Regions from separate parts of the Homo sapiens genome. Here all the other regions are linked to region 3. Evidence: fine-mapped expression QTL. A gene starts in region 3. Each other region holds a variant in brackets. All regions are shown on one strand. Distances are from middle to middle. Region 1 overlaps EIF4ENIF1 (eukaryotic translation initiation factor 4E nuclear import factor 1). Region 2 overlaps SFI1 (SFI1 centrin binding protein). Region 3 holds the start of PIK3IP1 (phosphoinositide-3-kinase interacting protein 1).

Region 1 (8,181 bases), 180 kb after region 3:
CCATCTTATTACCTCTCGAAATCCCTCTTTCACTTATAATTCTACCAGAAAACTTCAAAACAATACAATTCTTAATTTACCAAGTTTGGTATAACAAAAAGTTATTGACTAGAAGTAGTTAAGGACTAGAATGACACACATACCTGTCATATTTTTCAGAAAGGCATGAAGGCCTCTGTTTGGAATGGGGGAGTTCTTTTATATCCAAGAGTTCTTCCTAAAAAGAGAAGTCAAATAGTCATTTTGAATTACATTTCTTAGGCCACACACTTTAAACTTCTGTTCTGAATAATTCTAAGTGTCCATCTTAAACACTTCACACAATTCTTATTTACATCTTGCCTTATTTCAGAAAGGACTGGAGTACATTGAGGTTCTCACAAGCTCAAGCAGAATAATCCAGTAACTTAAAAGTGATCAGTTTCTGGCTAAAACAATCTCTCATAATTGCTATTGAATAACATTTCGTAACACTGAAAGCTCATCAAGGCAAGGAAACTTTAGTGTTAGATAAAACCTCTGCCTAATCTTACCAATTTTCAATGCATTAGATGACAACTTACAAGGGGATTTTTTTTTTTTTTTTTACATGGAATCTCACTCTGTAGCCCAGGATGAAGTGCAGTGGCACAATCTTGGCCCACTACAACCTCCACCTCCTGGGTTCAAGCAATTCTCTTGCTTCAGTCTCCCAAGTGGCTGGAATTACAGGCACACGCCACCATGCCTGGCTAATTTTTGTATTTTTAGTAGAGACGGGGTTTTGCCATGTTGGCCGGGCTGGTCTCAAACCCCTGACCTCAGGCGATCTGCCCGCCTCGGCCTCCCAAAGTGCTGGGATTACAGGTGTGAGCAACCGGGCCGGGGGGCGATAGTTTTTTTTAAATGTAATGTTGCAAGACTGAAAAAACACAAAAAACATCCATATACTATGTACCTATTAACATTTCTCCCTATTTATCATTTACTTTTTTGCAGAATTTTAAAAAAATTGATACAGACATTTGTATACACTTATGGGGTATATGTGATATTTTGTTACATGTATAAACTGTGTAATGATCAAGTCAGGATATCTCGGGTGTCAATTACCTCAAGTATTTATCCTTCCTATGTTTTGGAGACATTTAAAGTCCTCCCTTCTAGCTGTTTTGAAATATACAATACACTTGTTAACCACAGCCACTCTGCTCTGCTATCAAACATTAGAATTTACTCCTTCAACTGCATGTTTGTATCCATATAACCAACCTCTTTGTATTCTGCCATCCCACCCACACACCTTTCCCAGACTCTGGTATCTATCATTCTATTCTCTATCTCCACGAAGCCAAGTTTTTTTGGCTTCCACATATGAGCGAGCTTTTTTTTTTTTTTTTTGACTAGAGAGTAAATTGCATAAGTCATGATGCCTTACTCCTAAATACTGCAGTGCCTATTTCCTAAGAATGAAGATATTCCTTTACAGCCTGTTATCCAGCTCCATGAGAGAATTTAGCCCTACAGAAAATGACCTGAGTGAACTATTTTCCCATTCTCTCAAGGATGTACTTAGCTGGTATGCACAGGAGAGAGGCTAATCCCTCACATATAACGGATGCCTCAGGGCATGAAGACTTCTGCAGACCCAAGTTGAGAAGAACTGCCAGTTTTTTTTATAACTACAACTATTGATAATACTTTTTTCTAATCTACCTTCCCAATTCCAGTTTTGTAAATTGACCCAGTAATGTCCTTTATATTGATCTTCCCCCTCCAAAACAGGATCCAGTCTAGAATCAGATATTTGATTGTTGTATCTCTTTGGTCTCCCTTAATCTAGAACATTTCTACAACTTTTGTCTCTTATGATAGTGACATTTCTAGAAAATATAGTCCCTTTCTGTAAAAGAACATTATTCATTTTGGGTTGGTCTGATGTTTTCTCATGATAGACTGAGCCTAAATATCCATGGGGCAGAATACTAACTGAAGAGGTGCTGTGTCCTTCACAGACCGTCACTTCTGGAGGCCATGATGTTCATCTGTCCTTTATCTATGGTGCTAATTTGGATCATTTGGTCAAGGTATTCTCTAGTTTCTCTACTATTTAGTTACTGCTTTCCCATTTGCATTTAGCATGCAATCTGTGGGGAGACACTTTAAAATCACCCAAATATCTTGGTCTTCAGTTTTCCACTAAAGTTAGCATCCATTAATGATTCTTGACCAAACCACTCTTCATTTTGCCACTCTAGCCCTCTCTCCACTCTCCATATTTACCAGCCAGCACTTGGCATCATACTGTAAAGGCAAGTCCTCCTTTCCCCTGTTTATATACCTATGTATTATTGGTATGGACTCACAGACTCCTAGTTTTTCCTCTTTTTTTTTTTTTGAGACAGTCTTGCTCTATCGCCCAGGCTGGAGTGCACTGGCGCAATCTTGGCTCACTGCAACCCCTGCCTTCTGGGTTGAAGCACTTCTTCCACCTCAGCCTCCCGAATAGCTGGGACTACAGGCATGCACCACCATGGCTGGCTAATTTTTTTTGTATTTTTAGTAGAGACGGAGTTTCACCACGTTGACCAGACTGCTCTGCAACTCCTGACCTCAAGTGATCTGCCTGTCTCAGCCTCCCAAAGTGCTGGGATTACAGGCGTGAGCCACCGTGCCCGGCTGACTCCTGGTTTTTCTGTTGGTCTATAACTCATTAATGTCCTCAATTATGTGGCGCTCAAACTGTCCCAGATTTTGCCAGTGGGTGCCTCTTCAAACTGGCCCATGTGTCTTTTTCAACATGCCATCTTTTTTTTTTTTTTTTCCTAAAGACTGTCATACGTTCTAGCTTATTTTGTATTCATCCTGTCCCAGCCCTGGAATCAGCTATTTCTGAGAAATCCTAGTTTCTTTAAGTGAGGAATTGCATAAAACACCAAGGTCTGGGAACTGGGTATCCTCATTTGCTTGAAGGCCCTTTCAGTAGAGTTAGGAAATATACACACTTACATATACACACATATATATACACACATGCACACTAACACACATATCTACCCATATATACAACAAACTACTGCCTCCTTTTGGTATACTTTGAAATATTTTTTATAATAAAGTTAAAAAGCAATTCCGAAACTTTCAGCACCAGTAAAATGCTGCAACTGCCTTGCAAAAAAGCACATACCACTATGCCATGACTTTGGCAACACTCCCATCCCAGGCCTTGTAGTAGGAGAATGTGCACTGCTTCTCAGATCACTGATTCAACATCTTGGGGTGAGGATGGAGGGACAGATTTGCTCAATCAGCCCACAAGAATCACTGGGTATAGCATACCATGAATTCTCTAGTGTTTACAGAAAACTGAAGCATCTAAATGTTTTCTTCAGGACAAGATGCCGCCTTAGGACTATATGATACTTCAGTTTTAAGACCAGGATATCAATCAGGCATTTGCATTTATTTAGGATTTATTTATCAATTACCTGTCTTATAACTGGATAGAAATACGAATAAAAATTTGTAAGACTGAGATAAACACAGTTCCAAATACAAAGACATACCTAAAGGCTGTTCAAAATTCTGAAAAAAAACTGTCAAAGAACATACAACCTATAAATCACCAGTAAAGATAGGAGTCAGCCAGGTCCAGTGGCTCACATCTGTACTCCCAGAACTTTGGGAGGCTGAAGCGGGAAGACTGCTTGAGTCCAGGAGTTCAAGATCAGCCTGGGCAATATAAGGAGACACCTGTCTCTACAAAAAATATTTTAAAATTCATCGAGTGGGCCGGGCACAGTGGCTCACGCCTGTAATCCCAGCACTATAGGAGGCTGAGGCAGGCAGATCACTTGAGGCCAGGAGTTTGAGACCAGCCTGGCCAACATGGTGAAACCCTGTCTCTACTAAAAATATAAAACTTAGCCAGGTGTGGTAGCGGACGCCTGTAATCCCAGCTACCTGTAGGGAGGCTGAGGTTGCAGTGATCTGAGTTCGCGCCACTGCACTCCAGCCTGGGTGACAGAGCGAGACTCCGTTTAAAAAAAAAAAAAAAAAAAATTCACCAAGTGTGGTCCCCGCTACTCAGGAGGCTGCGGTGGGAGGGTCACTTGAGGTCAAGGCTGCAGCGATCGCACCACTGCTCTCCATCCTGGGTGACAGAGACCCTGTCTCAAAAAAAGAAAAAAACAAAACACACCACGGGAGACTCCAGAGAAATCTTCAGGGCAAACATGGTGTCAGATCTGTAGGGTTAGCACAACTTTGGGGCTGGGGGGAGGGGTTCAGGGAGGATGGAGCAATAGTAATTATGAAAATATCAGATATTACTGTAACACAGAAATCCTAAGGACAAGAGGGCTTAAAATTTTTCTAGTAGAAACAGGAAGGACCTTGCAATATAGGAAATACTTATACATAATGCTACAGGAAAAACCACTGCAAAGCAATTTTTTACTCTTAAAAGTAACTAAAGATTATCACATATCCCCTTACTACCCCATGCAGATACTAAGAACCCTAATGTGCTATTCAATCAAAGACAATCTTTCACGCTTAAATGTGTAAATTCTTAATGTAGGGAAGTTTCTAAGTGGTGTTTTGTTTGAAACTTTTAACTCCAAAGGTAACAGGGATCCCAATAGGTGTTCTCAATTACCACTACAGCTGTTTGCTGAACTCTATAATGATTTTACCTATTTATTTAGGAGTCACCTGGGAAAGGTTAATACTTTAACACAACCACAAAACATCCAGAAAAGCCTAATTTTGGTCCTATTGA[C/G]GAGGAATCAAAAAATACTTTAACAGAAGTAACAGTCTTAAAAAAAGGAAAATAGGAGGCTAAAGAGAGAGGACAACTAAACATAATATGGTATCCTGGATAGAATCCTTGAACAGAAAAAGGATATTAGTTTAAAAATAGGAAAATATGGGCTGGGCACGGTGGCTCACACATGTAATCACAGCACTTTGGGAGGCCAAGGCGGGTGGATCACTTAAGATCAGGAGTTCAAGACCAGCCTGGCACGCCTGTAATCCCAGCTACTTGGGAGACTCAGGCAGGAGAATTGCCTGAGCCTGGGAGGCAGAGGTTGCAGTGAGCTAAGATCACACCACTGCACTCCAGCCTGGACAACAGAGTAAGATTCTGTGTCAAACAAACAAAAAAATTAGCCAGGTGTGGGGGTGCACACCTGTAGCCCCAGCTACTTGGGAGGCTGAGGTATGAGAATTGCGAACCTGGGAGGCAGAGGTTGCAGTGAGCCAAGACTGCACCCTTTTTGAGGGAGACCCTGTCTCAAAAAAAAAAAAAAAAAAAGGCAGGGCATGGTGGCATGCCTATTGTCCAGGCGACTTGGTTGAGCCCAGGAGATCCAGGCCGCAATGAGCTGTAATTGTACCACCGCGCTCTAGCCCGAGTGACAGAAAACCTGTCTCAAAAAAAAAAGAGGCCGGACGTATTACTTGAGGTCAGGAGTTCAAGACCAGCATGGCCAACATAGCAAAACCCTGTCTCTACTAAAAATTAAAAAATTAGCTGGGTATGATGGCGCATGCCTGTAATCTCAGCCTCACTTGAGAGGCCGAAGCAGGAGAAATTGGTTGAATTCAGGAGGTGGAAGTTGCAGTAAGCTGAGATTCTCCAGCCTCGGCAACAGAACAAGACCTCTGTCTCCAAAAAAAAAAAAAAAAACAAAAAAAACAAAAAAAGAGAATTTGAAATTGAGAGGTTATTCAAAGTTAATGTTTTGTTCAATATAATCTTTCCTCTTAGAGTTATTGCTCTAATCACAGAGTGATAAACACCAACTACTCTCAGTTAAGAAGAGTTAACAAAATTCTCATTTTCACTTCCGTATTCCAGTTTTCGTTGTTGACTTTACATGCTTAGCATACATAGGTGTGATGCTTAAGTGAACAGATGTACAAACTTCACAGGCCTGTAAGAGCAGAAGGCAGAGTAGCAAGCTAGTTACACACTGACATTAACCACACCAGCAACATTATTTGTGCCAGGGCGCACTTTTGACCAAATACAATGGCTAAAACATAGCTCACCTGTCCATAGAGGATAAAGAGCCATTTTCTTCACTGAGAAATGGGCTTAGAAACAAGACAACTCTTGGGTTGTAAAAGTGGCAGGGAGTCACTGTAAACATCTAGGTAAACAGTATTTACTGTTCTTGAAAAGTAAGACTTCTTAAATCAGTTCCATGGTGTCAAGGAGTGTAAGACCTCCCATTTGAAACCATATGGAAAATGATGCATTTGTGCAATTTCTGCAGTGAATGTTCACACCTTCAAAAGATTTCCAATGAATGCCCAAGAGGTTAAAAATTATTGCTTCCAACTGAGCATGTTTCTCAAAATATGGCCCAAGGTCCACGTGGACATTTAGGGAAAAATGAGAGAAAACTTCCTCACTGTTTACAGCACTAAATGTGTTACCTTCCAGCATGATCCTAAGATGCTTAAGGTGGTATCCCAGCACAAGAAGATCCCCTACTTAAGTGGGGAAGAGAGAAACCATGAGCTAAGTCAATACAGTTTGGGCCAGGCATGCTGGCTGACACCTGTAATCTCAAAACATTGGGAGGCCGAGACCAGCTATCACTTGAGTCAGGAGTTCATGAGCAGCCTGGCCAACATGGTGAAACCACGTCTCTACTAAAAATAAAAAAACTAGCTGGGCCTGGTGGTGGACACCTGAAATCCCAGGTACTATTCAGGAGGCTGAGGCACAAGAACTGCCTGAACCCAGGAGACAGAGGTTGTAGTGAGCCGAGATCATGCCACAGCACTACAGCATGGGTGACAGAGCAAGACTCTGTCTCAAAAAAAAAAAAAAAAAAAATGCTGAGTGCAGTGGCTCACACCTGTAATCCCAGCACTTTGGGAGGCCAAGGCGGGCGGATCACGAGGTCACGAGATCGAGACCATCCTGGCTAACACAGTGAAACCCTGTCTCTACTGAAAATACAAAAAAATGGCCGGGCACAGTGGCTCAAGCCTGTAATCCCAGCACTTTGGGAGGCTGAGGCGGGCGGATCATGAGGTCAGGAGATCGAGACCATCCTGGCTAACATGGTGAAACCCCGTCTCTATCAAAAATACAAAAAAATTAGCCGGGCGTGGTGGCAGGTGCCTGTAGTCCCAGCTACTCGGGAGGCTGAGGCAGGAGAATAGCGTGAACCCGGGAGGCGGAGCTTGCAGTGAGCTGAGATCGCACCACTGCACCCCAGCCTGGGTGACACAGAGAGACTGTTTCAAAAAAAAAAAAAAAAAAAGTTTGCTCTCTTTACAACTGTCCACATAATATATCCTGTGTGCCCAGTTTAGTGCCACACATAGACAGATGACTCTTGTCCCCACCCCTACAGCTCTTCCAGTCTCTCGAAAGAAATTTTTTTTTTTTTTTGGAGATGGAATCTCACTCTGTCACCAAGGCGATCTCAGCTCACTGCAACCTCTGCCTCCAGCGTTCAAGCAATTCTGCTGCCTCAGCCTCCTGAGTAGGTGGGATTACAGGCTCATGCCGCCATGCCCGGCTAATGTTTTTCTTGTATTTTAGTAGAGATGCGGTTTCATCATGTTGGCCAGGCTGCCTGAGCTCAGGTAATCCGTTTGCCTCGGCCTCCCAAAGTGTTAGGATTACGGGTGTGAGCCACCATGCCTGGACAAGAGAAGAGTCTTTTTTTTTTTTAAATATGGAACACTTCATGAATTTGCGTGTCATCCTTGCGCAGGGGCCATGCTAATCTTCTCTGTATTGTTGCAATTTTAGTATATGTGCTGCCGAAGCAAGCATGAAAAGAGTTCTTAAACTTGCCATCTCATCAAGAGCCCTTAACATTATTCGTGGAAATACCCCTTTGGGATATTTTCAAAGAAAACGTTCAACTATGGCTAAAGACAGAATACTTGGGAAGTGGCCACTCTAACTAGGAGTGCTTCCTTCTTATGAGTATTTCAAGAAAGGATGTGATATTACCCTTTTGGAAAGGTGTTTTTTTTTTTTTTTTTTTAATCTATCCTTTTGGAGTTTTTTTTTTGAGACAGGTTCTCACTCTCAGGCTGGAGTGCAGTGGCATGATCATAGCTCACTGCAGCCTCAAAACTCATGGACTCAAGTGATCTTTCTTGCCTCAGCCTCCCAAGCAGCTAAGACTACAGGTGCATGCCACCACATCCAGCTAATTT
Region 2 (8,181 bases), 280 kb after region 3:
TTCCCCAACAACTTTTTATTACTGACAAACACCAAATCATAGAAAAGGTGGATACTGTCTGTGTTTCACCTAGTTTAACCGATTGTGGTTTTTTGGTTTGGTTTGGTTTGGTTTTTTTGAGACAGGGTCTCACTCTGTTGCCCAGACTAGAGTGCAGTGGTATGATCACTGCTCACTGCAGCCTCAACCTACCAGGCTCAAGCGATCCTCCCACCTCAGCCTCCCAAGTAGCTGGGACTACAGGTACACACCACCATGCCTGGCTAATTTTTTTTTTTTTTTGGTAGAGACAGAGTTTCGCCATGTTTCCCAGGCTGGGCTCAAACTCCTGAGGTCAAGCAATCCTCCTGCCTTGGGCTCCCAAAGTGCTGAGATTACAGGTGTGAGCCACCCCGCCCCACCAACCCATTGTTAACATCTTGCCACATTTGCTTTCTTTAAGTATATAAATACATTTATTTTGTCTGAGCTGCTCTAAAATTGTAGACACAAAGTTTATCTTAAAGTGTATATCTCCTAAAAAGGATGGTCTCCCACATAACCATAATATCATTATTATATTCCAAGAAATTTAATATTGATATAATATATAACATGCAGTTCATATTAAAACTGTATATTGTTGCTATTTTCATTTCCATAGTCTAATTAAAGGTCACCCATTGCTTTTAGTTGTTACATCTTGAAGATTTTTTTTTTTAGGATAGGAAAAATAATAGCACATTGATATGCTGATTTCAAAAATCTATAGAGAGTGAAAACTGATGATTCGTAAGAGGGGAACTGCCAAGGCAGTAAACTCGGGAAGGTGAGAGATAGCCAGAGCTGGACAGGGTTGGGAGGGGACTGACGTTGGTGGGAGCATGGGCGGTTCATCCAGAGTAGCAGGAAAGAGAGAAGACAGAGCCCGTGGGCAGGTGGGTAGTTAAACATGGTGGACCTTAAGGAAATTTCCTTTTGATTGCTTTTATTTTCTTAGTGAAATGGGAACGATGGTATTCAGTTGAGAGGAGGGAAAGGAGAGGTGCGACAGGCTGAAGAAAAGATATGAAGTCTTTGTCTAAGTCGTCTTCAGATTAGGACATGCATTATCACTGATCTAAGGGTGTGCATTTATAGACCCTTGTAGACCCTTAGCTTCTATATATAGGCATCCCTGGAACTAATCTGCCTGAAAAAGGACTACTTTACAGTAGGCTTCCTCTGACTTTGGAAGAAAAGGCAGACCCTCACTTATCCCAAATCTGAATTAATTATATCACCCCTCGGATTGTTTCTGCTCCTTGTCTGCTTGTTTTTGTTTTTGTTTTGAGTTGGTCGCTCTTGTCGCCCAGGCTGGAGTGCAGTGGTGTGATCTCAGCTCACTGCAACCTCCACGTCCTGGGTTCAAGTGATTCTCCTGCCTCAGCCTCCTGAGTAGCTGGGATTATAGGCACCCACCATCACGCCCAGCTAATTTTTTGTATTTTTAGTAGAGACGGGGTTTTGCCATGTTGGGCAGGCTGGTCTCAAACTCCTAACCTCAGGTGATCTGCCCTCCTCGGCCTCCCAAAGTGCTGGGATTACAGGCGAGAGCCACTGCACCAGCCATCTGCTTTCTGCTTGTTGATTTTATTCTTCTTTTTTTTAATCCAGGAAAAAATTACTTTTGAAAGCAGAATGTCCCTCTTAAAGACCCTTTTACCCCACGGTCCCATAGCTTATCATCCTGCTAGGGGATTGCCACTTCCTTGTTTCTAATTTCAGCCTTTCCAGCGTGTGTGCCTTTCTCTTTTCCCTCTCCACCTGTACTTCACCCTGTTTTCCTGCCTCTCCTTTGACTGTTGCCTCTTCTCTGGTTTTCAGGCTTGGTCACAGTGGCGGGAACAGCTCCTGTATGTCCAGAAGGAGAAACAAAAGGTTGTCTCTGCAGTGAAACATCATCAGCACTGGCAAAAACGGAGATTTCTAAAGGCCTGGCTTGAATACCTGCAAGTCCGCAGAGTGAAGAGACAGCAGAATGGTGAGTAGGAAGCTCCAGGCTCTCGAGATAGAGGATCTGGTCACAGTTTCACTCTCCTGCTGCCAGTGGTACTGTACTAAGAAGTAATATAATGGTGCTACTCCAGAAATTTTGGTAAAAGGAGATTAAGGAGGAAAATACATCATCCTTGAGTCACATTTATTTCTCTTTGGGCTTTTATTTATATATCTGTATCTATATCTATCTAGCTATCTGTAGATAGATTTTTTTTTTTTTTTTGAGATGGAGTTTCGCTCTTGTCACCCAGGCTGGAGTGCAGTGGCGCAATCTCGGCTCACTGCAACCTCCGTCTCCTGGGTTCAGGTGATTCTTCTGCCTCAGCCTCCCTAGTAGTTGGGATCACAGGTGCCCACCACCTCGCCCGGCTAATTTTTGTATTTTTAGTAAAGATGGGGTTTCATAACTTTGGCCAGGCTAGTCTCAAACTCCTGACCTCAGGTGATCCGCCTGCCTCAGCCTCCCAAAGTGCTGGGATTGCAGGCGTGAGCCACTGTTTCCGGCCTCTTCTGTATATTTTTTATCTAAATAGGGTTTTCATTTTGCTATAAGTATTGTAATTATTTTGATTAATATGTTGATAACCTATGGTTTTGTATCTTCCTTTTTTCCACACAGTTAATCAACACTTCCCTACATCTTAAGTATTTGTCGTAAATGTTATTTTTTAACAACTATTCATATTTTATAGGATGGCTTACCTTAATATACTTAGCCATTCTCCTATTAATAGATATTTGGATAGTTTCTGTTTGTCTCCAGTTATGCAAATGCATGTGATTTTGATGTTGAGTTTTTTGGATACTGTTTATATGGTTTTGTTTCCCAATTAGATTCAGAAGTAATAATACATAGAAATGTGAACATTAGTACACTTTTTAACTTAAGTTTATTGAGTTTATACCAAAGTAAGTCAAGCACTGTGCTAGACACTGGGTTAAGGGTCTCTGGCGTTCACCCAAACCTCCCTGCAGAAATCTCTTACGCTGCCAACACTGTCTCTTGGGAGAGTTTGAATATGTTCATTGGAGGATAGTGACCCCAGACCAACAGTCCAGTTGCCCAGTCCTGGAATGTGAAGGCATTAAGCTGTTTAGTATGATAAGCTATAGACTAATGCCTGCCTCCAATTACAGCATTCAAATTCCAGGTCTGATTCCCATCCCCTTCCCAGGCCCTAGCTCATCAGACCATTATCTGACTAGCATTAAAAGGAGATGAAGCTGGCAGCCAGGATCAGGTTGGCTGAAAGCTCAAAAAAGCCTATGCCAGCGTGGCAACTGAATTTTATGTCATTGACTCAATCTCTAAGTCCTATCCAGGAGACATTTGTTTAGAAGCAAAAGTAAAACAGTCCTTTTTGAAAGTAACAGTTTTCATTTCTGTTCATCAGTATCTAACTAGAAGCCTCAGCCCTTTGATGTAACTGATTTTATAGCATCCTCCTCCCTAAAATCACAGACCTTTTCTCTTTCCTTGGAGAGAGGAGATGTAGCTCAGGGATTCCTAATGACCTTTCAAGGTTTAAAAAACTTGTATTTTGGCCGGGCGCGGTGGCTCACGTCTGTAATCCCAGCACTGTGAGAGGCTGAGGCGGGCGGATCACTTGAGGTCAGGAGTTCGAGACCAGCTTGGCTAACATGGTGAAACCCCATCTCTATTAAAAATGCAGAAAAATCAGCCAGGGGTGGTGGCACATGCCTGTAATTCTAGCAACTTGGGAGGCTGAGGCAGGAGAATCGCTGGAACCTGGGAGGCATAGGTTGCAGTGAGCCGAGATCCCGCCACTGCACTCCAGCCTGGGCAACAGAGCGAGACTCCAACTCAAAGAAAAAAAAAAAAAAACTTAGTGCGTGTGTGTGTGTGTGTGTGTGTGTGTGTGTGTGTGTGGCCTTGAACCCCTGCTCTCTGCCAGTAGTGGGGTTCAGCTTGTCTTAAAGATGTTTCCAGCTCATCTAACCTTAGGGGAGTAGCACTTAAGTTATTTCTCTGTTGCAGAGATGGCTGAGCGATTCCATCATGTCACTGTGCTCCAGATATACTTCTGTGACTGGCAGCAGGCCTGGGAGCGGAGGGAGAGCTTGTACGCTCACCATGCCCAGGTGGAGAAACTGGCCAGGAAGATGGCCCTGCGGCGCGCCTTTACTCACTGGAAACACTGTATCCTTTCAGATACTCAGGCTGTCCATTGCCTCAGCCAGGACAGCATGAGCTCAGCAGCATGTGAAACGAAAGTCATGAGATACATGGGAAACAATTGCCAAACGATTCAAAACAGCCTTATCTCTGTTGACAGTCTTAAAATTTTTGTTTAATTGGGATTGTGTATAAAAAGAGTGCTTATATATAGTTTAAAAATAATAAAATGAACAACTATATATCTTATCACCCAACTTTCAAAATAGAACCTTCCTAGCAC[A/G]CCTATTTGCTCCTCCCTGACTGCGTTCTTTTTCTTTTCCCTCAGAGGTAATCCCACTTTCCTGATTCACATTTTTTGGTGTTACAATTTAAGTGCTTTTCTCTACCCACTAGGTGGTGGAAATAGCCACCACTATCTTTTTCTTGGTGATACCATCACCGTGATCATAGTTTCCATTTATTGCGCTTTTACTACGTAGCAGACATTATGCATCATCCTCTTCATCCTCATAGCAACGCTGTGGAGTAGGTGCCACTATTACCATTTTACAGACGAGGAAAGAGATTCAGAGGAGCTGAGTGTATTCTAAAGTCACAGGTCATTGGCAGAGTCAAGATTTTCAAAACCTAGGCCTTTAACTCCTGTGTACATATTCTTTTTTTTTTTTTTTGAGATGGACTCTTGCTCTGTCACCCAGGCTGGAGTGCAGTGGTACAATCTCGGCTCACTGCAATCTCCGCCTCCCAGGTTCAAGCGATTCTCCTGCCTTAGCCTCACGAGTAGCTGGGATTACAGGCATGTGCCACCACGCCTGGCTAATTTTTGTATTTTTAGTAGAGACGGGGTTTCGCCATGTTGGCCAGGCTGGTCTCGAACTCTTGACTTCAGGTGATCCACCCACCTCAGCCTCCCGAAGTGCTGGGATTACAGGCATGAGCCAGCGTACCCAGCCTCTTTTTTTTTTTTGAGACAGAGTCTCGCTCTGTCACCCAGGCTGGATTGCAGTGGTGCCATCTCAGCTTACCGCAACCTCTGCCTCCCGGGTTCAAGTGATTGTCCTGTCTCAGCCTCCTGAGTAGCTGGGATTACAGGCGGCCACCACCATGCCCAGCTAATTTTTGTGCTTTTAGTAGACATGGGGTTTCTCCATGTTGGCCAGGCTGGTCTCGAACTCCTGACCCAAAGTGATCCACTTGCCTCGGCCTCTTAAAGTACTGGGATTACCGGCGTGAGCCACCGCGTCCAGCTCTATGTATAAACTCTTTTTTTTCCCTTTTTTTTTTTGAGATGGAGTTTCGCTCTTGTAGCCCAAGCTGGAGTGCAATGGCCCAATCTTGGCTCACCACAACCTCTGCCTTCCGGGTTCAAGCGATTCTCCGGCCTCAGCCCCACGAGTAGCTGGGATTACAGGCATGCACCACCATGTCCGGCTAATTTTTTTGTATTTTTAGTAGAGACAGGGTTTCTCCATGTTAGTCAGGCTGGTCTCAAACTCCTGACGACCTCAGGTGATCTGCCCGCCTCGGCCTTCCAAAGTGCTGTGATTACAGGCCTGAGCCACCGCACCCAGCCATATTCTTAATCACTACCCCTACCATACTGTGTGCCCAAGTGTGAGAATTTGGACTGCCTAGGATGTTCATCCACACATTTTATTTGTTCATCAAAGTCTTGCTTTGTATAAACTCCTGCTTAAATTCTGGGATATGAGGAAGCTCAGACTAATGATAGTTCATTGTCTAGTGGGGGAAATAGACATGAAAATATGTCTTTAAATATGGCATGATAATTCCTATCATAAAGATTTGTATGAAGTCCTGTGAGAGCGACTGTGGAGATTCAGCCAAGGAGGTAATGTTTGTGCAGAGTCTAAGTCATAGGAGATGAGAAGTTGGGAAGGTTGATGTCTTAGGGGAAGACTGCAGAAGGTTGGAAAAGGCATTTCAGTGAGGAAAAGCATTCAAGAATCCAGTGGGCTGTGGAGGTAGGGATGGTGGGAAGGTAGATGCAGGAACCTCTGGAGGTTTTTTAACTTTTAAAAATTTAGAGACAGGGTCACATGTTGCCCAGGCTGGAGTGCAGTGGCTTTCACAGGCGCAATGGTAGCTCACTACAGTCTTGAACTCCTGGGCTTAAGCAATCCTCCCCCCTCAGCCTACGAAGTAGGTGAAACTACAGGCACACACCATCACACCCGGCTTCAGGGGTTTTTAAGAAGAGAAGAGGCTGGGGGCAGTGGCTCACACCTGTAATCCAAGTGCTTTGGGAGGATCGCTTGAACTCAGGAGTTTGAGGCTACAGTGAACTATGATGGCACCCTTGCCCTACAGCCTGGGTGACAGAGTGAGACCCAGTCTCTTAAAAAAGAAAAGAAGTGCAGTCAGATTTGTGCTTTGGAAAGGATAATTCTGGATTAGCGGAGAGAGGCTAGCACTGGTGGGAGACCAGTTATGGGAGGAGGCTCACTTACCAGTCTACGTAAGGGACGAGTTGGATGAACTGCAGGGTGTTGGGGGTGGGGACAGAAGAGCAGAAGGGGATGGAGAGAGCCAAGAGATTTAGGAAGGGAACAGATGGACTTGGCGACCGATTAGATGAGAGTGGGAGGAGAAAAGGTTTGAAAATAACTCCAAGGTTTTTAGCTCAAATATCTAACTGGATTGTGATGCCAAAACAGAGACTATAGAAAAAGGAGCAGATTCTGCTTTAGATATGGTGATTTCTAAATGTTTACTGAAATTGATAGCAGTTTATCTCAGGTATTTTTTGCGTCTCATCTCATGGGCATTCAAGGGGAGGAATGCAAGACCAGATGTTTGATCAGTAACTGACAGGGTTTCCCTTTGCCCACTGCTTCCCTGGGTCATCAGGAGTAGACAGAGGTGGACCTCAGCCCACCTGGCACGTGTGTTATCCCCGATAGCCACGGCCCTTCAAGGTGGCTTGCTGAGAATGCACTGTGTAGGGGTCAGAACCTTGTTGGGACTGGAGGCCTTCACTTCCTGGCAGACATGCTGCTGTGTGCAGAAGAAGCTGCCCAGTTTGAGATGGCAGAAGAGCACCACAGGCACAGCCAGCTGGTAAGAGCCCTGCATCCTGGCACGGGTCCGCTTGGCAGCCTTGCTTGGGTATCCACTCTTGGGGGACCCTGACCCCTATCACCTTCATTAAATGCAGTCAGCTATGGGTGAGTTTTGGTCATGAAGCCCTCCTTTCATTGTGGGTGTCCTTCTTTTCATTTTGGATTACAGGTGCTAATGTTGTAGGGTCAGAGGGGTATGGAGCTGTAAAGGAACCTCAGAGATTATTTAGTCCTGAGCTTTTTTTACATGGTAAAACCCCTTTTGAGTGGCGGAAGCCTCACCTATAAAATAGGTCAAAGTAGCCATGCTGTGGTTGAAGCACGTCAGGGAGTCCGTCCCTGTTCTACCTGCTACTCTTCCCTTCCCTTGCTACACGAGGTGGTCTTCATATGTTTTCAGGAGCCTCTGGGGCTCCACAAAGCACAGTACGAAAACCCCTAATCCAGTCTGATATCTTCACTTCTGTCTCAGAAAATTGAAGCCTAAGGCATGGGGAAGTATGGGCAAATCAGCTTTGCTTAGCCAATTTGTGAGGCATTATTATTATTTTTTAGAGATGCGGTCTCACTATGTTGTCCAGGCTAGATTCAAACTTCTGGGCTCAAGCAATCCTCCCACCTCAGCCTCCTGAGTAGCTGGGACTATAGGCATGTGCCACCAGGCCCAGTGTTGAGGCATTAGTATTATTATCATTACTATTATTATTAGAGATAGGGTCTCCTCTGTCACCCAGGCTGGAGTGCAGTGTTAAAATCATAGCTTGCTGCAGCCTTGAACTCCTGGACTCAAGTGATCCTTCCACTTCAGCCTCCCAAGCAGCTGGGACCACAGGCACATGCCACCATGCCCAACTAATTTTTTAGATTTTTTTTTTTTTTGAGACAGAGTCTCGCTCTGTCACCCAGCCTGGAGTGCAGTGGTGCTATCTTGGCTCACTG
Region 3 (8,181 bases):
CCAGGGCTAGAAGTCAAATCCCCCGATTTTGCCCAAGAATGGCAAATAATTTTCCACAATCAGCCAGTGCTGTAAAGATGAATGCCAGTCTGGCTTACCATCATGCACCAGTCACTGACGGACATCTCGTGGGACCTTTCAAAATAAGCATTCTTCTCCTGCTGTCCCAGCCACAGGTCATGTCCTTGAGTTTCACAAGTAGCCTCTTTGGCTTTCTCACACGTGGTGAAGAGTGGCAAACAGACTTTCTGTTCTCCAACTCACTTTTTTCTTCCCTAGCAGAGGAGATCCCACTGCTTATAGCTCAGGAAATTTAAGCCTCAACTGCAACAGTGGCTGGAAACCTTTTCTAGTAGCAGAATTTTATAACTCACAGAAAGAATTTGGTCTTAAGGTCCCTGCAATCAGTGTCAAGCCTGATTTCTGCAGTGCCACTCACTTCAATGCCAGGCATGTGGGATCAGACAGCAGGGAATTTGCTATCAAAAGAGCTGGGTCTGAATCCAGGTTCTGCCACTCCTAGGCTATGTGACTTTGAGCAAGTCTCTGACAGAGGCTTCTTCATTTGTAAAATGCGGAACAAGAACATCCCTCACAAGGCTTTTAAGTGAGGTGTAAAGGCACCAAAGGAAAGGGTTTGTCCAAGGTCAGCAGATAAAGACTAGGACCAAGTCTCTACATCTTGAGCTGATTTTCAACATCTTGCTTCCTTTTGGGTAAGAAAGCCACAAAGTTTGACTTTGTGTACCTTCCTCCCCTCCTCCTAAGAGGGCCCAGAAGAGAAGCTACTGACCTCTTGTAGGAGTAGCCCAAGATGATGCCAGCTCCGATGGCAATGATGATCACCATCATGGTAATGCCCAGCACGTAGCCTGCCAAGGATAGGACACAAGGTCCCATTAGCCACACCCTAGACAATCAGCAAATGACATCTCTTGATGAATCCCAACGAGGGCAGGGGTGGGGGACCGTCATACCCAGAGTTCCCAGGTCCTTTTTCTCCTTGGAGTTCATCCGCACCCGCTGGCTGATCCCAATCACTGGCTGCACAGCTGCCGCCTCACTCCGAGCGGGCAGGGCGTTGGCAGGAGCGAACACCTGCACCTCATCTGCACCTGGCCCTTCAGACGCTTCCTGGATTTCTGTCGTGAAGGCTGGCAGGGCCTGGGAGGTGGTCTCTGGAGATGAGGTGGGAAACAGCTCTCATCAGGGACTGCCCTGAGTGAATTCCACAGCTGAACCTGGCCTGAGTGTTAGGGTAGATGAAGGTGGGTCACCTAAGAATTTCCCCCCACACACAACCCAAAGTCAAATTCTGCCCCAGAGGTAAGATCAGGCCTGAGAGGGCTGAACCATCTCAGGGACAAGGCAAATGAGAGAGGAAGGCCGTAGGGAAGGGCTTCTCTCCTACCTCCCACGTCTTTATCTGTCCAAATCCTTGCTATTTCCCAAGGCCCCTCTCGGTTGCGTTCTTCTGCAGGGGATTCCCCCCACTTCTACTTCAGGAAACAACCCATGCTTCCTTTGAGCAGCTCACATCTAAGCGTACGCTCTGTGCCAGTCCTTAGGTAAAATGTTTTACTTTGTGCCGGGAGCGGTGGCTCACGCCTGTAATCCCAGCACTTTGGGAGGCCAGACGGTCGGATCACCTGAGGTCAGGAGTTAGAGAGCAGCCCGGCCAACATGGTGAAACCCCGTCTCTACTAAAAATACAAAAATTAGCTGGGCGTGGTGGTGCACGCCTGTTATCCCAGCTACTCAAGCGGCTGAGGCAGGAGAATCACTGTAACGCGGAAGGCGGAAGTTGCAGTGAGCCGAAATTGCGCCACTGCACTCCAGCCTGGGTGACAGAACGAGACTCCGTCTCAAAAAATAAAAAATAAAAAATAAATGCTTTATTTTGATTATCCCATTTAAACCTAGAAAACTCTCTTGCTGCTTTGGGAGCAAAAAGCCTGCGCTCTGGAATCTAAGAAACGTGAATTCAAATCTGTCCCCTGCCATTGCCTTTGGTAAATCGCTTAACTTCTCTGAAGCTCAGATGCCTCAAACGACTTCTTCCCGCGGTGTGTGTCAGGGGAGGTTGGGGAGCTGGGGTTGTGAGCAGTGTGGGTCTAGCACACTGCAGACGCTCCGCAAACGGTCAATAAACGCTGAGGGGCCAAAAGCCACTCCTCAGGACGCGCGGCGGAGAGACCTAGCCTCACCCCAGCCTCGCCCCGCGCAGTTGTTTACAAGCGCTCGCGGCGGATGAGCTCATACGAGTGGCGGCGGCGGCCAATAGGCTTTGAGCCCCGCGGCCTGGAGACAGCCCTGGCCAATCGGACGGCGCGGAGGCGGAGCGGGGCCGGCCGGCATCGCGCGGCCGCACGTGCGCCACGAGTGTCTCAGCCGCTTCCTGTCAGCGCCAGGAGCGGGGATTCCCGGGGTCCCGGGCAGGTACCTGGACAGCGCAGGTCCTCGCAAGGCCGTTTCTCAGGGACGCCGGCCTCGCCACTGACGTAGCACCAGGGCCCGCGCGGGTCCTCGTCCGGGTTTCGGCAGTAACTGTGATTGCCGGCCCCTAAGAGAGGAGAGAAGGAAATGTGTGCCGGGGCTGGCACCGGGAACGCGGCCGCCGCCCGCCAGCCCCGGGGCCGTCCCCCGGAGGACACTTACCCGACACGGGGGCCGAGGCCAGCCCGCTCTGCGCGTCCAGCCAGTTGAGGCAGCGGAGGCCCGGCGCGGGGGAGGTCTGGTCCTCCCGGTACAGGTGGCCGTTGTCCCAGAAACAGCCTGTGAGGAAAAGAAGCCCCCGGACACAGAATAGCGGGCAGCGAACGGAAGACGCCCAGCGTGGCGGACAGGGGAGCCGGGACCACCCGGGCTGAACCTCAGCCTGGTTAGGGGACCCCGGGCCCTGCTGGGCCTCCCTCTCCTCTCGTGGCAACACCCCCACGCCCCACGCACCCCCCCCCCCCAACTCCACGCACACCTCAGGGTGTGAAGCCCCCAGCCTGTGCCTGTCCCCCAGTCAACGCTCAGAGACTGTTAGGTTTTATTTATTTTTGAAACCTGGAAAGCGCTGCAGAAGTGCAAAGCGTTGTTACTCTTGAACTTGTGACCACTTTGGAGGAGGAGATGGAGAGGAGGAGGCCTGGCTTAGGGTCCCTTTGAGGAGCTGGGAGTTTTGGGACGGGGGGCGCCCAGACGTGACATTTGTCCCTGTGTTGTAATGGCCACGTTACATAAACTCCGGTGTTTCCTCCTTCACGGATACGGCCACCTTCTGCCCGTTTAAAAGGCAAATACTCCCTCCCAGGAGAATTCTCCAGGAGCCTTGACTCCGTCAGGCAAAAGATTCAAGACAGCCTCAAACGGAGGAAACCGGCCTCATCGCTGACTGGATGAGACTCCAAGCTCCCACTCCCCTCTGCAGGAGAACCACAGAAGGAGGCTGGGGAAGGAGGACCACACCATGCAAAGGGCTTAGAAAGAACAGGACTTGGGGAGTAGGGGAGATGAACCCCCAAGCTCCATCCACTCATGAGCAAGGAAAGGCAGAGAGAAAGTGGCTTCTTGCCTTTGTTCTTAATGGCAAAGATGGAGCTGCAAGCCCCTGACAAGGAAAGGAGGGGTGGAAAAGCTTTCACGGGACAACAGAAACCGGCTAAACGCTTCGTTTCCTGTCATCCTGGCCCTGTTTGGGAAATAGGGGGCTTTACCCCTTCTGTTTCATGAAGTTGCTGCGGAAAGGAAAGATTGTAATCTCACCTCCAGATCCATAGGCTTCTGCTAGGAGCATGTTGCTGACGAGGAATGCTTGTACCCAGGCCAACAGCATCCTTGCCTCCTTCGTCTTGCAGGTGATTGAACGACCAGTGTTTAACCGAGGCCCCCTTGGCGGCGGCTCTGCCTCCCAGTCCCAGCCTTGCAGTCAGACCTGCCCTTGTTATGCTGTTCTGGTAAACAGCCTCTCTTTAGAACTGGGAGCTTCCCAGCTAGCTTGCTGCAGCGCGAGCTGTTTTTCAGCTGAAAGGCGCCCCCTGGGTCCTAAGCCTCCTAGGTCATGCAAAATCTAACTGAGCCAAGAAAGGAACTCAGCCAAGAGATATGCAGGTTGTGCTTAGCAGCCGATCAGTTTGAGACCTGCGAGGCCGCATCCCCAGGGTTTTTCATCTCTTCTGTTTCCATTTGTGTGAGTACAGAAAAAATAATTCTATCAAGGGGCATCATGGGATGTGGGAAATTATAAGCACTAAAACACAGAACAACTTAGGGAGCTATGCACCCAGGAGGAATTCATGACCACATAGGGGGGAAAAAATAAGAGTTTCTGGTGGGGAGTGGAGTAATAGTTTTTTTTTTTTTCTTTTCTTTTCTTTTTGAGACAGAGTTTCACACTGTCGCCCGGGCTGGAGTGCAATGGCACAATCTCGGCTCACTGCAACCACCTGCCGGGTTCTCGCAATTCTGCCTCAGTCTCCGGAGTAGCTGGATTTTTTTTTTCCCTCACTCTATAGGAAATCCATTTGCTGTAATTTATATCCATCATTAAATCTCACCATATCCATTTGACTTAGGCCTTTTGGAGTTAGGCAGAAGGGCCCTTCTTCCTGTTTGGCTGACAGCTCCCAGGCAGCCTCAGTAAACTGAGAGAGAGAGCAGAGTGATTCGTCAAGACTACCTTGTGACAGGGGCACACCACCACAACCCAGCTAATTTTTTGTATTTTTAATAGAGACGGGGGTTTCACTGTGTTGGCCAGACTGGTCTTGAACTCCTGACCTCGTAATCCACCTGCCTCGGCCTCCCAAAGTGTTGGAATTACAGGTGTGAGCCACCGCGTTCGGCCGAGTAACACTTTATACCCATCCTTGAAAAAGAAAAAGGGCCTTTATGAACACTGACACTTAAAAAAAAAAAAAAAAAAAAAAAAAAAAAAAAACAGTGTAACTTGGCCAGGGTCAAATCTGTCACATTGCTTTTTCTTACATTTGAGGTTTTTTGGGGTGTTGTATATAGTAGGACTATAGAAGGAGTATCTTTAGTTGAAAACACATGTTATGCAAACATGGAAAAATTTGCTCAGCTACATTGTAATAGTCTACCCTTTCTGCCAGCCCTAAATTGTATAGAGGAATTTAAGTAAAATGTTTGCTTTTTTTTTTTTCCCTCACCCTATAGGAAATCCATTTGCTGTAATTTATATCCATCATTAAATCTCACCATATCCATTTGACTGAGGCCTTTTGGAGTAGGCAGAAGGGCCCTTCTTCCTGTTTGGCTGACAGCTCAAGTTCCCAGGCAGCCTCAGTAAACTGAGAGATAGAGCAGAGTGATTCGTCAAGACTACCTTGTGACTCAGTCAGATCCCAAAATAGAAATGGGGAAACTCTGTTTCAATCTTGCAGGCTGTAATTTAAGGAGGAAAACAACTAATTTTTTTTTGGGTGGGGGGGACAGAGTCTCTGTCTCCCAGGCTGGAGTGCAGTGGCACCATCTCGGCTTACTGCAACCTCCACCTCCCAGGTTCAAGCAATTCTCCTGCCTCAGCCTCCCAAGTAGCTGGGATTAAAGGTGTGCGCCACCACGCCTGGCTAAATTTTTTTTTGTATTTTTTTAGTAGAGATGGGGTTTCACCATGTTGGCCAGGCTGGTCTCAAACTCCTGACCTCAGGTGATCCACCCACCTTGGCCTCCCAAAGTTCTGGGATTACAGGTGTGAGCCACCATGCCTGGCCACTTTACTAAATAAATTTTAAAAGCTTTATCAGGGAAGAAAACTAGTGTCAATTCAACTAATCTGAGGTGAATCTGAATTCACTACACTCATAGAAAGGATAGAGAGATACATTTAATTCACTCTTTAAAATAGTTTACTGATAATGTTTGATCCCTTTCGTCCATTTAATAAGATAGATTGCTTTGTTTTTGCAATCACTCTCCTATCTCCCCACCCAAGCTTCTGATCCTCTGACTCTTGACTTGGTCTACCCTGTGAATTACACCCTAGAGTCTGTAAATTTATTCACACATATTCATACACAGATACGGTAGCATTTTAAAATTTGGCCAGGTATAGTGGCTCACACTTGTAAATCCCAGCACTTGGGAGGCCAAGGTGGGAGGATGAGCCCAGGAGTTTGAGACCAGCCTGGGCAACATAATAAGACCCTCATCTCTACAAAAAAAAAAAAATAGGTAGGTGTGGTGGCACTCATCTGTAGTCCCACCTACTGAGGTGGGAGGATCATTTGAGTTCAGGAGTTGGAGGCTGCAGTGACCTGTGATCATGCCACTGCACTCCAGCTTGGGCAACAAAGAGAGACCCTGTCTTAAAAAAAAAATTTATTTTTTTTGAGACAGAGTCTTGCTCTGTTGCCCAGGCTGGAATGCAGTGGCGCCATCTCGGCTCGCTGCAAGCTCCGCCTCCTGGGTTCACGCCATTCTGCCTCAGCCTCCCGAGTAGCTGGGACTACAGGCGCCCGCCACCACGCCCGGCTAATTTTTTGTATTTTGTTTAGTAGAGACGGGGTTTCACTGTGTTAGCCAGGATGGTCTCGATCTCCTGACCTCGTAATCCGCCTGTCTTGGCCTCCTAAGGTGCTGGGATTATAGGTGTGAGCCACTGCGCCTGGCCAAAATTTTTTTTTAATTTAACAATTCCAATATAATAGGGATTTTTAAATTTTATTAATTTTACAAATATTTTTGAGAATCTGCTACATGCTAAATATAGTTGTAGATACTGGGAATACATCTGTGAACAAAATATTTGAAATCTCTGCCCTCATGAAGCTTATATTCTAATTGGGAGAGACATGATAAACATGTAAAATATTAGGTAATCTTAAGCGTTATGCGAAAAAAAGTGAAGCAGAGTAAGGGAGAGAGTAACAGGGTGATATTCCACTTGCCAAAGAAAGCATATACTATTTTCAGGGAAGTAGTAGGATATTTCTATAGCAAAAAGCTGAAGGGGAAGGGCTCTTTGCACAATTTTTGGTGGGAGGGGTCCTATGTTTACTCTTACAGTGCAGCAGGAGACATATGATGTGCATTTTGTTTCATTACATAAAATACAGGCTTGAGGAAATGAGAGTAGTTTTAAATTTCAGAACAGCAGAAGGTTCTTTGAAGTTGGTCACTCAGCACGTAATGTATTGCCTTTGTATGCAGCGAGGGTTCATTTATTGATATCTGATGAAATGCTCCTCCTTAGATTTTGAAGGGCTACTTTTGCTGGATTGTAATACTTTTCCCTCTGATTACGGTAGAGACAGGCTATAACAGGCCAGCACTTGTACTAGTTTCAGATTATCTACCATGCCTATGTAGGGATGCTAGTATTTCTACCTCAGAAGCCCAAGGCTTCTTTACCTGTTGCTGTTGTCATCTAATTTTCCTATTTAAAAAATACTATTTTCCCTAACTTACCTTGATACTCAGCAAAACCATATTTTGTGTCATGTGTCTTATCAGGAACAGCACTGCCTAGAAAAGATACAAAGCCAGAAGATTTTTTTCAGCTTAGTCATGTCTATTTTTTCTCCCCTGTAACTAAGACATTTATCAGCATGATTGATTGGATTTTTTTAGGGGGCGAGGGAATGAAGGACTTGATTCTCAGTCCTTCAGAGATGTACTCTAACAGGTTCAGTACCTTCCTTCCTCAAGGCAATCAGATTTGGTTTAGAAATGTGCCTCTTGTCTTTTTCTGATGATCCAGATTTGAACTTTGCTCCATTTATTGGGGCAAGATGGCCATATTTTATGGCCTGTAGTTAGCGCAGACTTCAGATTTCTTCTGAAAATATCACGGCAATAATAATGTGATACAGTGCTACTCAAATACTTAAATTTTGAGTTGTTTATATCCTTGAAGACAACATTGTGAAACATAATACTCATATCCTCAGTTTCGTATTAGATGATTACTAATCCAGAGACAAAGCTGTGCGATGAAATCAGGAAATATTCTCCAGAGTGTTTCCCAAGAAGGATGGGCACTTCATTTTGTTAACAGGATATGTTAGTGAGTGAACTCTAATAAGGAAGTTATAAAGCTGTTAAAAGGCTTAAGAATCCTTTTTTGTCAGCAAAAGAGGGCCAAAGTGTTGGTAAAAATCTTTGGAATAAGACCTAATGAGTTGGCTCCAGCAATTCACTTTATATGATGTGCTGTAGAAGTAGCTACTG

The links. PIP is the estimated chance that this variant, and not a neighbour inherited with it, causes the effect.
Region 1: its variant is fine-mapped to the expression of PIK3IP1 in whole blood (TOPMed, PIP above 0.99).
Region 2: its variant is fine-mapped to the expression of PIK3IP1 in whole blood (TOPMed, PIP above 0.99).

The regions. Positions count from the first base shown.
Region 1 is chr22:31,471,701-31,479,881 of GRCh38, forward strand. EIF4ENIF1 (eukaryotic translation initiation factor 4E nuclear import factor 1) reads right to left here. Exons shown (of 19, transcript NM_019843.4): 3 at 144-217. It also overlaps the pseudogene RNU6-28P. Among named protein-coding and RNA genes, the nearest start is that of EIF4ENIF1, 14 kb to the right of the region's middle. The variant C/G (reference allele first, on the strand shown) is at 4,763.
Region 2 is chr22:31,571,213-31,579,393 of GRCh38, forward strand. It overlaps SFI1 (SFI1 centrin binding protein), which reads left to right. Exons shown (of 33, transcript NM_001007467.3): 9 at 1,846-2,002; 10 at 4,019-4,180; 11 at 7,170-7,240. Among named protein-coding and RNA genes, the nearest start is that of MIR7109, 46 kb to the right of the region's middle. The variant A/G (reference allele first, on the strand shown) is at 4,440.
Region 3 is chr22:31,288,522-31,296,702 of GRCh38, forward strand. It overlaps PIK3IP1 (phosphoinositide-3-kinase interacting protein 1), which reads right to left and starts at 3,967. Exons shown (of 6, transcript NM_052880.5): 1 at 3,754-3,967; 2 at 2,659-2,775; 3 at 2,444-2,563; 4 at 978-1,178; 5 at 794-872. The coding sequence starts at 3,823. LOC105372997 (a long non-coding RNA gene) reads right to left here. Exons shown (of 4, transcript XR_001755493.3): 2 at 7,420-7,476; 3 at 5,209-5,300; 4 at 4,423-4,631. RefSeq lists enhancers at 763-812, 1,960-2,159, 3,300-3,349, 6,970-7,019 and silencers at 2,210-2,439, 2,620-2,739.